Linked DNA regions of Homo sapiens. The protein of the gene in region 4 purifies or fractionates together with the protein of the main gene of each other region. This does not show direct contact. Each region holds a gene or a part of one and is shown on either strand. Other genes may lie near its edges.

Region 1 (3,500 bases), on a different chromosome or scaffold from region 4:
ACTAATAAAATTAGGACATGTTTTGATAATACATTTGCTCATCTGTATAAAATTTCATGAGAGGTTTACCAGTGGAAATACTTTGTCAAATTATATTCCTGCAGTAGACAGTTTTGAAAAGAGTCTTTGCATGGAGGGAAGAAGATGTTGCTGTTCACTGGTTATTTGAAGGCCTTGAGTGCCCTCTGCCGACCGGCTTCTGCTTCATGGGTTTTCACTGGTTATTTGAAGGCCTTGAGTGCCCTCTGCCCATCGGCTTCTGCTTCATGGGTTGACATGCGTCTGTAACATCTTTCTTACCAAGTGTATATTTCTTCTTGTATTGTAGGGTTACTATTAAAATACATAGCGATGGTAAACTTGAATCAACTATTTAAAAATACGTGGAATACGTATCTAAGCCAAAAACGGAAAATGAATATTATCTAGGGTGTTAAAGGAAGATAAAATGTTTTTAAGAATTTTTCTTTTTATTAAAAAAATGCAATTAATACATCCCCATTGCAGAAATTTTCAAGTATATATAAGAAAGGAAATTAAATACTCTCGTTACCTAGAAACAATTCAGGAGCTTTTTTTTTTGTCTTTTTTTAAATGCACATCTTCTCGCCACCTGCTTTTTCCCTCCAGTGTCACATATCATTTGATCTTTTCATGTCAGCGAGTTGGTTTTGATGCCATCGTTTGAGAGTGCTGTATGCGGTTCCCTTTCATGCTGTCTGTGTGGTTGCATGTGTGTATACTGGTTTCAGTACTTTAGTATCATAGTGCTACAGGGAACATGCTTTAGAGTTATGAGTTTGTCTGCATACCTAGTTTTCCTTAGGACAATTCAATCCTAGAATTACTGGATTAAATATAAAATTTAAGGTAATAGCTTCTGGCTTATTACTGCATTTTAGATAGTATTACCTTCATCAGCAAGTCTAAAATGAAGTTTTGGTATCGCTGAAAGTTCCTTTCTTGTGTTGAGGTTTTTTAGGAAATGATTGAAGTGATTATGCCCGGTGTAACCATTTATGAACTGTTGTTTCTCTTTCTTTGGAAATGGAAGGGGCCGTTGCATCCTCCATTGCCCCCTCCGCATCAGCCTCAGCCTCAGCAACCTCAGCAACAGCCCCCGCCACAGCACCAGCCTCCGCACCAGCCCCCGCACCAGCCCCCGCCCCAGCACCAGCCCCCACCCCAGCACCCACCACAGCACCCGCCGCAGCACCAGCACCACCACCACCACCACCACCTGTCCGTCCCGCCCCCTCCTTTGATGCCGATGTCTCAGCCACAGTTCCGGCCTCACGTACAGACCGCTCAGCCTCAGGCCAGCAGCAGCCGGATGCAGTGCCCCCAGCGCCAGGGGCTCCGGCATGTAAGTGTCAAGGGGTGTCTTCCCTGTGTCTTCCTGGGAGGCCTTTTAACTTACAGGACTTGAGGGGCATAATATGTAGGTTAGAATATTTTCCAGTTCTGATTTCTGTTTATAAAATGTGTAGTACATAGTTCTGAAGTGAATCCATGTTTTAAAAAACACTCAGGTGATTTGTTTTCTTGACTACAAGAATTGATAAGATACTCCTTTTGTGTCTCAAAGACTGTGTTAATATTTACTTAAGCATCTTTCTTGTATCTAGATATTTCTATAGCAATAGACAGGAATTAATAGACACGTAACTTTAGAAAATACTTTTGGGTGGTAGTCACTTTCCCTTTACCAGTGGCTTATTTTTTGATGTATAGATTATCTCTGTCTTTTTGGTCCCTGAATAAATACATAAATGAATTCAGGAAAAATACGTTGACTGTTCTGTTGCCAGGTGCTACTCTAGTCCTGGAAATACAGCAGTGAACAGAAGAGACAAATTCTTTTCCTTCAAGGAGCTTATACTCAGTCGAGGGAGATTAGCATACATTTATTTGTGGGGTTGTGTTCTCAAGCACCATCAGCAAATGTGTGACTTGTCGTGCATTAAAAGAAACTGGGAAACAATGTATTGCTCTGAAAATAAAAGGCCACAGTCATTGCCCTTGTCCTCCATTAAATACATATAAGAAGCTTTTGTAATTTTGTTTTTAGGAAAGGGAGACACAGTGTGGCTAGTGGTCAGGGTTTTTGCCTCCATTAAATATATATAAGAGGCTTTTGTAATTTGGCTTTTAGGAAAGAGAGACACAATGTGGCTAGTGGTCAGTGGTCAGGGCTCTTGCCTCCATTAAATATATATGAGACTTTGTAATTTGGTTTTTAGAAAAAGAGACACAGTGTGGTCAGTGGTCAGGGTTCTCGCCTGTCAGTTTTCTTTTGGTATTGTCTTCTTTTCACCCTTGAGCTTCAGTCATGTCACTTAGCTGCTTGGAATCTCAGTTTTCCTGATATTTGCCTCTTTCTTTCTTAAAGTAAACATTGCAACTAAAGTGCTGTGAACAGTAAGAAAAGATTTCTAAATCTGAGAAGAGGGTGCTTTATAACCTGGGTTTCATTTGTTAGAATAATGGTAGGCTAGTCTCATGACCCTCGTGCACTGGGATATTTGACCTGCGGGACCTCGGAGATCCCCCTGCTTCCCCCCTCCCCCCTTCCAGCTCTCTCGTGTTCTCTTTGCCTCCTCCAGGTGTTGGTTCTCTCTTAAGAATCCCCAGGATGAATATGACTAAGCATTTCCTCTCGAGTAAAACGTTCTGGCACCTTTCTTCTCCCGGGGGTCATGTTTCTTAGGACATTGACCTGATGCTTGATTCTTTCCTTGTTCCAGCTTAAATTTAAGTGACTAGGTAAAATAGTAGCATGTGAATCCCGTTGATCTCTGGTGGCAGATAGAGTGGTTTTTTGGCTGTCTTAATTCTTTTAAAACTGTCAGTCCCTTTACTGAAGCACCTGCTAAAGATCAGCCTGGTGTAATTTCTATGAAGAGGAGCCTCTCTGTAGGCAAGTATGACAACTTTACCAATGGAAATTGTTAACATTAGGATGAGGCATGCTGCCACATGGATCAGGTGACATTTATGTATGAGAAAAAAAGTATGAGAAAAAAGTATCTGCTCCCCAAAAGAAGTCATTTACTAATTAGAATGATTTATTGTGTTTTTATTTAATAATGTGCCTTTTAATGTTCCTTCTGCCAAGTTTCCACTTACAATTAGAATCTCTTTCTTTTTGTGAAAAGAATACAACTTCTCAGAATGTAAGCAAGCGGCCCATGCAGCAAATGCAGCCCACTGCGCCAAGGAACAGCAATTTGCGTGAATTACCCATAGCGCCGTCACACGTGATAGAAATGAGCAGCAGCCGCTGCTCTGCCACGCCCTCAGCACAAGTGAAACCTATCGTCAGCGCGTCACCACCCTCGCGGGCCGTGGCGGGTTCCAGAAGCTCACAGGGAAAGACGGAAGTGAAAGTCAAGCCAGCTAGCCCTGTGGCTCAACCTAAAGAAGAGGCAAAAACAGAAACAGAGGTAGGACACTGCTCTTATTAACAAATGTTGGTCTCAAACAAGAAGCCTTAGAAT
Region 2 (3,500 bases), on a different chromosome or scaffold from region 4:
GCTTGGGGATGGGAGGAGAGGGTCTGGGAGGAAGTGGGTCCTCTCAGCGGAGCTGGGATTCCCGTGGGAGAGGCTTGAGGGAAAGGCAGGAGTCTGTTGGGACCAGATCCAGGGGGGCCTCCAGGGCAGCTGGGCGTTTAGAAGGACTTCTCCAGGGGTATGTGGGAGCGAGGTGGGGACGGCAGTTGCATATAGGTCTATCGGGCAGAGGTGAAGTCCTGCTGTTGGGGAGACAGAAATCTCCCACTGTTTCTGTGACTGATGTGGTGGGGCAGTGATGGGGACATTTGAGGCAGTGGATGAGAGTAGGGGCCGGGCGTAGTGGCTCATGTCTGTAATCCCAGCACTGTGGAGGCCAAAGCAGGAGGATCACTTGAGCCCAGGAGTTTGAGATCAGCCTGGGTAACATAGGGAGACCCTGTTTCTACCAGAAAAAAAAAAAAAAAAAAAAAAAAAGGCTGGGCCTGATGGTGCGCACCTGTGGTCCCAGCTACTGAGGAGGCTGAAGTGAGAGGATCACTTGAACACAGGAGTTGAGGCTGCAGTGAGCTGTGATTGTGCCACTGCACTCCAACTCCAGCCTGGGCAATAGAGCGAGACCTATCTCTAAGAAAAAAGAGAGAGAGAGAGAGAGAAAGAGAGAGAGAGACAGAGAGAGAGAGAGAGAGAGAGAGAGAGAGAGAGAGAGAGAGACTAGGGGCAGACTTCTTTAGCAGGAGGGGGCCACGCAGCAGGATAGGGAGAATATTTTTCCTGCCTGGTGCTTGGACCGCGTTGGAATTGCCACTACTGCCCATGGCCCGCTGGATGGTGGGAGGGGCCTAACACATTCTAGTTCCCCCAGCACCTGGTTGCCTCCGAGATAGCTGGAGCTGGATCCACCCCTAGGCCAGGAGCTCCTCCAGGCAGGGCTCCCAGCCTACTCTTCTCTGGGTCCTCAGGCCCACTCGGGGCGGAGTCTCGTACTTGAAAGTCCTCAGAGAGTTGAATGAATGGGTCCAGTCTCCCCATTTTATGGAGAAGGAGTCAGGTTCCAGAGAAGGAAGGAATTGTTCACTGAAGCAGTGAGATTCGAGTCTATTCTGCAGGCATGAGATAGGCGTGACCAGAGGTGGTCAGGGAACCTGAATGACAAAAATCAGGTCAATTCCCACCCTGGGCTCATATCTTAGAGTAAAAGCAAGGTTGTACCTTTTGTCCCCTCTCTTACATCCCCTCCCACCCTCTGCCCCTCGATCATTTGGCTCTAGCCATGCTGCCTACCTCACAGTGACACAGCCACACAGATGCATTGTGGCCCCAGGACCTTTGCACTGCTGTCTGGAATGATTTTTCTCCCAACAACCCCCTTCCTCGCTCCTGTCATCTCCCTTGGGTCTTCATTTAAATGCCACACCAGAGAGGCCCTCCCTGGCCACCCTAATGAAAACTTCAACATCCTCAACCCTAACATTTCCTGTCCCCTGGTTTATTCCTCCCCTTGGTATTTATCACCATTTAATGTACTATCTGGCCGGGCATGGTGGCTCGTGCCTGTAATCCCAGCACTTTGGGAGGCCCAGGCGGGCGGATCACCTGAGGTTAGGAGTTTGAGACCAGCCTGGCCAACATGGTGAAACCCCATCTCTACTAAAAATACAAAAATTAGCCAGGCATAGAGGCATGCGCCTGTAATCCCAGCTACTTGGGAGGCTGAGGCAGGAGAATCTCTTGAAACCGGGAGGCAGAGGTTGCAGTGAGCCAAGATCAAGCCACTGCACTCCAGCCTGGGTGACAGAGCAAGACTCTGTCTCAAAAAACAAAAACAAACAAACAAACAAACAAACAAACAAACAAAAAAACCCAACAAACCCACCAAACATACCATATTTGGTTTCTGTAAAAAAATAAAAAAGAGAGAGAGAATTTTTAAAAAACAAAAACCATACTATCTAATTTACATTTTTAATCTTTTTATCTGTCTCCTGGGATTACAGCAGCTCTGTCAAATAGCAATATAATACAGGCCAGATGTGTAATGTAACATTTTCTAGTAGCCACATTTAATGATAAAAGTAAAAAAGGAACGGGTAACATTAATTTAATGATATATTTTATTTAACCCAGTAGATTGAAAATATTATCATTTCAGCATGTCATCAAATATTTAAAATCTCAGCAAACTATCTTTTTGTTGTACTAAGTCTTGGAAATCTGGTGTGTATCTTACACTTAGAACTCCAGATGGGGATATTTATATTTAAATTTTAAGATGGGGCTCGGTGGCTCACACCTGTAATCCCAGTACTTTGGGGAGCCAAGGCAGGAGGATCGCTTGAGCCCAGGAGTTTGAGACCAGTCTGGGCAACATAGAAGACCCTGTCTCTACAAAACAAATTTAAAAATTAGTAGGCATGGTGGCATGCCTGTTAATACATTTATTTTTTAATTAATAAATTTCAGACATGAATCACCTGAGGCTGGGAAGTCAAGGATGTGGTGAGCCGTGGTTGTACCACTGCACTCCAGCCTGAGCAACGGAGTGAAACCTCATCTCAAAATAAAATAAAATAGATTGAATTTAAATGAATGAAATTGAAAATGTGTTTCCTCAGTGACACATGCCACATTGCAAGTACCCGGTAGTGCACAGGTGGTGGTGGCTTCTGCAGTGGACAGCCCGGGGCTAGAAAGTAAACTTTTGGAGGCAGGCGTCTTCTTCCAGCTTGTCTGTTGCTCCATTGTCAGTGCCCAGAACTGAGCCTGGCCAGGAGTGGTGGCTCACGCCTGCAATCCCAGCACTTTGGGAGGCTGAAGAGGGTGGATCACCTGAGGTCAGGAGTTCAAGACCTGCCTGGACAACATAGTGAGACCCTAATTTCTACAAAAATTGAAAATAATTGGCCAGGCGCGGTGGCTCACACCTGTAATCCCAGCACTTTGGGAGGCCGAGGCGGGCAGATCACCAGGTCAGGGGATCGAGACCAACCTGGATAACACAGTGAAACGCTGTCTCTACTAAAAATAGAAAACAATAGCCGGGTATGGTGGCAGGCGCCTGTAGTCCCAGCTACTCAGGAGGCTGAGGCAGGAGAATGGCGTGAACCCAGGAGGCGGAGCTTGCAGTGAGCCGAGATCGTGCCACTGCACTCCAGCCTGGGCGACACAGTGAGACTCCATCTCAAAAAAAAAAAAAAAAGAAAATAATTAGCCGGGGCCGGGTGTGGTAGCTCATGCCTATAATCCCAGCACTTTGGGAGGCCGAGGCAGGCAGATCACCTGAGGTCAGGAGTTCGAGACCAGCCTGGCCAACATGGTGAAACCCTGTCTCTACTAAAAATACAAAAATTAGCTGGGCGTGGTGGCAGACGCCTGTAATCCCAGCTACTTGGGAGGCTGAGGCAGGAGAATCACTTGAACCCTGGATGCCGAGGTTGCAGTGAGCTGAGATCACGCCATTGCACTCCAGCCTGGGCAACAAGCGAGACTCCGTCTCAAAAAAAAAAAAAAAAAAAAAAAAA
Region 3 (2,500 bases), on a different chromosome or scaffold from region 4:
GTGGCGGCAGAGGGTCAGGAAGTGGAGGGTTGATGGGCGTGTGGGGGGCAGGGCTCAGCCTCCTGGTGCTGAGCCAGAGAGGGACCAGCAAGCGGGTGAGGGAGGCTGTCTCAGGTCCTAAGGCTGGCTCTGCCCCCCCAAGATGGTGCTCCCCACCATGACACTCTCCTCACCCCCCTTGTCTCCTCAGCTGCAGCAGAAGGCCGTGGCTAGTGAGATCTTCAAGGGCAAGAAGGATAATTACCCTCAGAGTGTACCCAGGCTCTTCATCAGCACTCGGCTTGGTGAGCCCCTGACTTTCCAGCACTCAGACCTTTCGTCACCATCCTGGTCCCCCATTGCCTCCACTGACTTCCCTCCCCGCCATCTGAGTTGCAGGTACAGATGAGATCAGCCCCCGAGTGCTGCAGGCCTTGGGCTCTGAGCCCATTCAGGTAAGAGCCTGCCTGCAGCCCTGAGTCCAGCAGCACGGTGCTACTGCCTGAGAGCTGAAGGCAGGTCAGGGCAGGGGCGGAGCCTTGGGAGCCTCTCCCCAGCCCCTTCAGCCTGGCCTCTGTCCCCAGTATGCGGTGCCTGTTGTGAAATACGACCGCAAGGGCTACAAGCCTCGCTCCCGGCAGCTGCTGCTCACGCCCAACGCCGTCGTCATCGTGGAGGACGCCAAAGTCAAGCAGAGGATTGATTACGCCAACCTGACCGGTCAGCCAGGGTCCAGGGCTGCAGGGGGAGGGCCCTGCTCTGACCCTCGACCTCTGACCTTTGCCCTCTCCCCTCAGGAATCTCTGTCAGCAGCCTGAGCGACAGTCTTTTTGTGCTTCATGTACAGCGTGCGGACAATAAGCAAAAGGTGCCTTTTCATGGATGGGGAGGAGTGGTGGGGGATGGGGGAGGTAGATGGGGAGGTGGGGTGGATGGGGGAATAGGGGGTGTGGGGGTGGATGGGGAGGTGGGAGGGTGGATGGGGGTAGATTGGGGGGTCAGGAGGTGGATGGGGAGGTGGGAGGGTGGATGGGGGTGGATTTGGGGGTCAGGAGGTGGATGGGGAGGTGGGGCGGGGGTTCCTCAAGTTCTGGGCAGGGCCTGACCCCTCCTCCTGCCTGGCCCCCCAGGGAGATGTGGTGCTGCAGAGTGACCACGTGATTGAGACGCTGACCAAGACAGCCCTCAGTGCCAACCGCGTGAACAGCATCAACATCAACCAGGGCAGGTGAGGCGCGGGCGGCCCCCGGGGACAGGGCGGGGGTGGCGAGGGGGCTGTGTGGGCACCCAGGGACAGGGTGGGGGTCCACCTTAGGGTTGGGGGTCTGCCTCCATGGAAAAACCCTCACCCACCCCGTTCCCCCAGCATCACGTTTGCAGGGGGCCCCGGCAGGGATGGCACCATTGACTTCACACCCGGCTCGGAGCTGCTCATCACCAAGGCCAAGAACGGGCACCTGGCTGTGGTGAGTGGGGCCTGCTTTCCCGCTTATGGCCTGGCTGTGATAGCCAAGCCTTCCTTGGCTGTGCTTGGCAGAGCCCAGGCACCTCACCATGGGCCTTCATCCAGAGGCCATCATACCACCTCTTCCATCCCTTGGCCCACCCATGAGGGCCAGAGAGAGCCCCTCAGTGCAGAAAGTTGTAAAGGTGGCAGCACGGTGGCTCATGCCTATAATCCCAGCACTTTGGGAGGCTGAGGCGGGTGGATCACCAGAGGCCAGGAGTTTGAAACCAGCCTGGCCAACATGGCAAAACCCATCTACTAAAAAAATGCAAAAGGCTGGGTGCAGTGGCTCACACCTTTAATCCCAGCACTTTGGGAGGCCGAGGTGTGTGGATCACCCGAGATCAGGAGTTCGAGACCAGCCTGGCCAACATCGTGAAACCCCATCTCTACTAATAACACAAAAATTAGCCGGGCGTGGTGGTGCACGCCTGTAATACCAGCTACTAGTGGGGGCTGAGGCGGGAGAATTGCTTGAACCCAGGAGGTGGAGATTGCAGTGAGCTGATATCATGCCACTGCACTCCAGGCCTGGGGAACAGAGTGAGATGTCATCTCAAAAAAAAAAAAAAAGGCCAGGCACAGTGGCTCACGCCTGTAATCCCAGCACTTTGGGAGGCGAAGGCAAGTGGATCACCTGAGGTTGGGAGTTCGAAACCAGCCTGACCAACTGGAGAAACCCCATCTCTACTAAAATACAAAATTAGCCGAGTGTGGTGGCGCATGCCTGTAATCCCAGCTACTTGGGAGGCTGAGGCAGGAGAATCGCTTAAACCCGGGAGGTGGAGGTTGCGGTGAGCCGAGATTGCGCCATTACACTCTACCCTGGGCAACAAGAGCAAAATTCCATCTCAGAATTTGTATACAAAAAAGTTAGCCTGGTGTGGTGGCGTATGCCTGTAGTCCCAGTTGCTCAGAAGCCTGAGATGAGAGGATTGCTTGAGCCCAGGAGGTTGAGGCTGCAATGAGACCCAAGATCTCACCACTGCACTCCAGCCTGGGTGACAAAATGAG
Region 4 (3,476 bases):
GAACGGAAGCGCCCGCGCTGCCAACCCTCTGTCTTCCACGTTAAATCCGATTTGCTCCAGCAGTGACACCTTGAACCCATTTTGGGGACCGGGCGGGGGTGGGGGTGAGGGGGTGGGCGGGAGTGAGCAAAGTTGGGAGGGGGAGGAAGCGGAGGGAACAATCGGTTGTTTACTGGGAAGCTCTAGCCGAGCTCGCCTGGGCTTGCGGGGCTGCCGTGGCCGCCTCTTCCCGACTCAGCCCGCGGTGGGAACCGAGAGTAGCCGCGCCGAACCCGAGGGTGGGTGGTTCATTCGCTCTTTGGCTTCGGATAAAACAATAGGGCCGAGGAGTGCAATCTGATTCCCACACATTTGTCTGCGACTTCGCAGCGCTCAGGGCCCCTGTGCCACCTTCTCTGTACCTGCTTTCTCAAGCCGAAACGGGCTTGGTGAAACCTGGGCCCGGAGTTAGTATTTTATAGGACCTCACAGTGTACTGCTTACCTCACTCCATCCGCGGAGAAAGCATTTTTGAAGTGGCATGACCAAAACGGAATGCTTTATTCCTTTTCCGTAACACCAGTCTTAGGAGCAAAACTGGTTTTTGGCGAACATCTCCGGGTTTTCTAGACATCGGTAATACGGATTTTTTTTAAGCAGCATTTTTCTTTTAAGTGGGTCACTGGGCGGTCTTGTTGTTACAGTGCTCGAATTCTGCTCTTGTTTTTGCTTGCACATTGCCAGTTGGAATTATATTCATTATAATATATACATGTTAATTTTAGGTTCATGAATCTCAAGGGTCAGATTCCTCCCCTGCTGCCAGTTCAGGCTATGAATCTTCCACTCCACCCGCTATAGCTTCTGCAAACAGTAAAGATACCACTAAAACCCCTTCTGCAGTTCAAACTAGCACCAGCCACAACCCTGGACTTCCTCCTAATTTTAACGAATGGTACGTCTGAGGACAAACACAAACCCTGTTAATTATAGAATGGACCAAATACATTTTTAAAAGAAAACTGAGACCAATCAGATGGAAATGGAGTTTTAAGGCAAGAGGCCATATATAGGGCTACATCTTGTTAATTGCAATTGTCCAGGAAGGTTTTGGGCAAGATCCAAAAGTAGCCATGCCCTTTTCTCAGGATAGAAAATATGTTTTGGCATTTGAAGCATTTTTTACAAAATCTTTACACTACTTTTTCTTCCCCTTCCTCTTGCTCTCTGCACACCCCATTCTTAAACTCCTCCAATTCATTTTAACACTTGTCCTGTTTCTTGAGAGGAAGTTATAGAAGGCTTGTTGGTGGTGGTGATGTTAAACTGATGGAAATTCTTTTTCGCCTTAGTGGTGATTGTTTAAACTCTCACAGTCTTAAACCGTGCCAAAGTCCTGTTATGTCTTGAACTTTTCCTCAAAGCATTACACTTGTGAATGTATTTTTGTCTAATAGGGTCGAAACTGTTGTTCAGTATTTTTTCAGGCTGAGGATGTGATGTTACTCTACACATTGTGACGTTTAGTATACAGTTGCCTTTTGTAATAACTTTTTTTTTGTAAATACATATCCATTGATGCCATATTTATCGTTTGTAATTTAATTATTGCTACAAGTGCCGGGAACTGAACAATATTTATGGATAAATGTTTTCTAACAAATTCTGTACAGCTTTTGATTATAACTGCTTTAGCATTAAAAATTGTTTTGAAAGAAGAACACAATTTACAATTTTGGAACCACTGACTCCTTTCTCTTGTTTTGTAACAGCCTTCTTCTACAAAGAGGAGATGTGAGCAAATTAAATCTTGTTTGTTGGTATTTATAACTCACTCAGATCCCTTTTTTAATTGTTAAATTATTTTTCTATTACAGTATAAATTCCTTACAGTGTCAGTTTCCATCTGGGAAGACTCTCCTTTCTTTATCTCTATCTCAGATGGTTGTTTAACTGCGAGTTTAAATGTGTTTGTCCTGGATTTTCGGCATGCAAATCAAATATTACTGATCAATTCAGTTAGTGGCCATGACATCTCAATCTTGTACTTCAAAGACTGAGAAGCTGGATTTAATCATCCCTGCCCTACATATATAAACATAAGGTAACCTACTGAATTTTATGTCCCTTAGTTCTTTATTACCTTACATAAAAATGAAAATTGCGGCAGGATGCATGTCTGTCTGTTCTATCTAGAGATCACCCATATACCTATATATGTTTGTATCTATGACTTATCTAATCTGCCTATCAATCTATCTAGTAGCTATCTATATATTTTCAAAAGATAGCTTATGTCTAAAACAGTGGTGATGAGTAAGGCCAGTTGAGCATTGCTTACTTATGGTTAAAGTGCTTCTTAAAAGAACCATAGTCCATTTACAATTTTGGAAGGCAAAGGCTGATTTGTTTGCTGTATATAGTTCAATTCATAATTATCGCAATTATCCATAACATTTATATAGCGGTGTAATAACTGCAGCAGTTCTGAAATGATGCTATGGGAAAAAAATTGCAAAATATGTATTTTTAAAGTTCATGATTTGTAGGCAAAGATGTTAAGAGCATTGTTTCCATTAAAATCAATAACAATGAAAAACGGTTGTTTGCTTTGTGATAAAATGTTAACAATCCATTTAATCTTCAGTGAAGCAACTCATTTGGACAAACAGTTCTTTTACAGTGGTTATATGGAAAAGAAATTGATTGCTATTTTGGGGGGCTGGAGTGGGTAGAGTATTGAGACCTTTTTTATTAGGGTGCTGTTTGTTATTGAGAGCCCAATCTCTGCATGAATAACAGAAAGGTGGACATAAGGAATTGTAAAGTATTTAGAATGTATTGAATAGGCTTAAGTACCTCCTTTAAGGGGCAATGCTCTAGGTTTTTGGTGGCAGTCAATTTGGTATTATATATGATCATTTTCAATTCTAGAATTTTGTTTATTGTTCTTTTTGAAGAAATAAAGTCTTGGCACATCTTATTTATGTTATAACATTTTTGTATTTGGTGCCTGATTTTTTTTCATGTTCAAATAAATCAATCTAAAATTGAAATGCTTACAGAACTTCTGATGATTAAAAGAAACTTTGATTCTGTGAATGCGGTTGAAGCAGTCTATTTAAGTTATCTACTGATCTTTGTCAACAGACAATTAGTTATTGACAGTTTCTAATTGCAAATTGCTTTGGAGGCTATTTTTTGTTAGTGGAGAATAATGGGGTCTTTTGCATTTTCTTCCACCAATATCCAAGCCTGAATGCCATGAACAGAGATTGGGATGACTACACATGTGATGAGCAGGTAACCTGGTCAGTCTATCACTCCCAACCCAGACATTCCGATCTTGACCTTGACATTGAGGGTGCTGGACCAGATTCCTATTTCAGGCTTTTTCCTTCACCTCAAACCAGAGACCATTTTAAATGCTCAGCAAGTTCTCAGAAAGTATATATTCATAAGACTGGCTCTAAGTGTGTTCCATTGTGAAATCTAAA

Evidence for each region. The genes of interacting proteins can lie anywhere in the genome.
Region 1: the proteins of ZIC3 (region 4) and RBM33 purify together in Homo sapiens (affinity purification with mass spectrometry; one large-scale study listed by BioGRID and IntAct). This does not show direct contact.
Region 2: the proteins of ZIC3 (region 4) and MYH14 purify together in Homo sapiens (affinity purification with mass spectrometry; one large-scale study listed by BioGRID and IntAct). This does not show direct contact.
Region 3: the proteins of ZIC3 (region 4) and MYO1C purify together in Homo sapiens (affinity purification with mass spectrometry; one large-scale study listed by BioGRID and IntAct). This does not show direct contact.

Annotation. Positions count from the first base shown.
Region 1 is NC_000007.14:155,738,661-155,742,160, forward strand, and holds part of RBM33 (RNA-binding protein 33), read left to right. Parts: intron 1-1,054; coding exon 1,055-1,366; intron 1,367-3,158; coding exon 3,159-3,446; intron 3,447-3,500. UniProt on the Homo sapiens protein: RNA reader protein, which recognizes and binds specific RNAs, thereby regulating RNA metabolic processes, such as mRNA export, mRNA stability and/or translation.
Region 2 is NC_000019.10:50,206,622-50,210,121, forward strand, and holds part of MYH14 (myosin-14), read left to right. Parts: intron 1-3,500. UniProt on the Homo sapiens protein: Cellular myosin that appears to play a role in cytokinesis, cell shape, and specialized functions such as secretion and capping.
Region 3 is NC_000017.11:1,466,187-1,468,686, reverse strand, and holds part of MYO1C (unconventional myosin-Ic), read left to right. Parts: intron 1-190; coding exon 191-284; intron 285-378; coding exon 379-434; intron 435-563; coding exon 564-699; intron 700-776; coding exon 777-847; intron 848-1,109; coding exon 1,110-1,207; intron 1,208-1,345; coding exon 1,346-1,445; intron 1,446-2,500.
Region 4 is NC_000023.11:137,569,127-137,572,602, forward strand, and holds the end of ZIC3 (zinc finger protein ZIC 3), read left to right. Parts: intron 1-764; coding exon 765-944; 3' UTR 945-2,976; downstream 2,977-3,476. UniProt on the Homo sapiens protein: Acts as a transcriptional activator. Required in the earliest stages in both axial midline development and left-right (LR) asymmetry specification. Binds to the minimal GLI-consensus sequence 5'-GGGTGGTC-3'.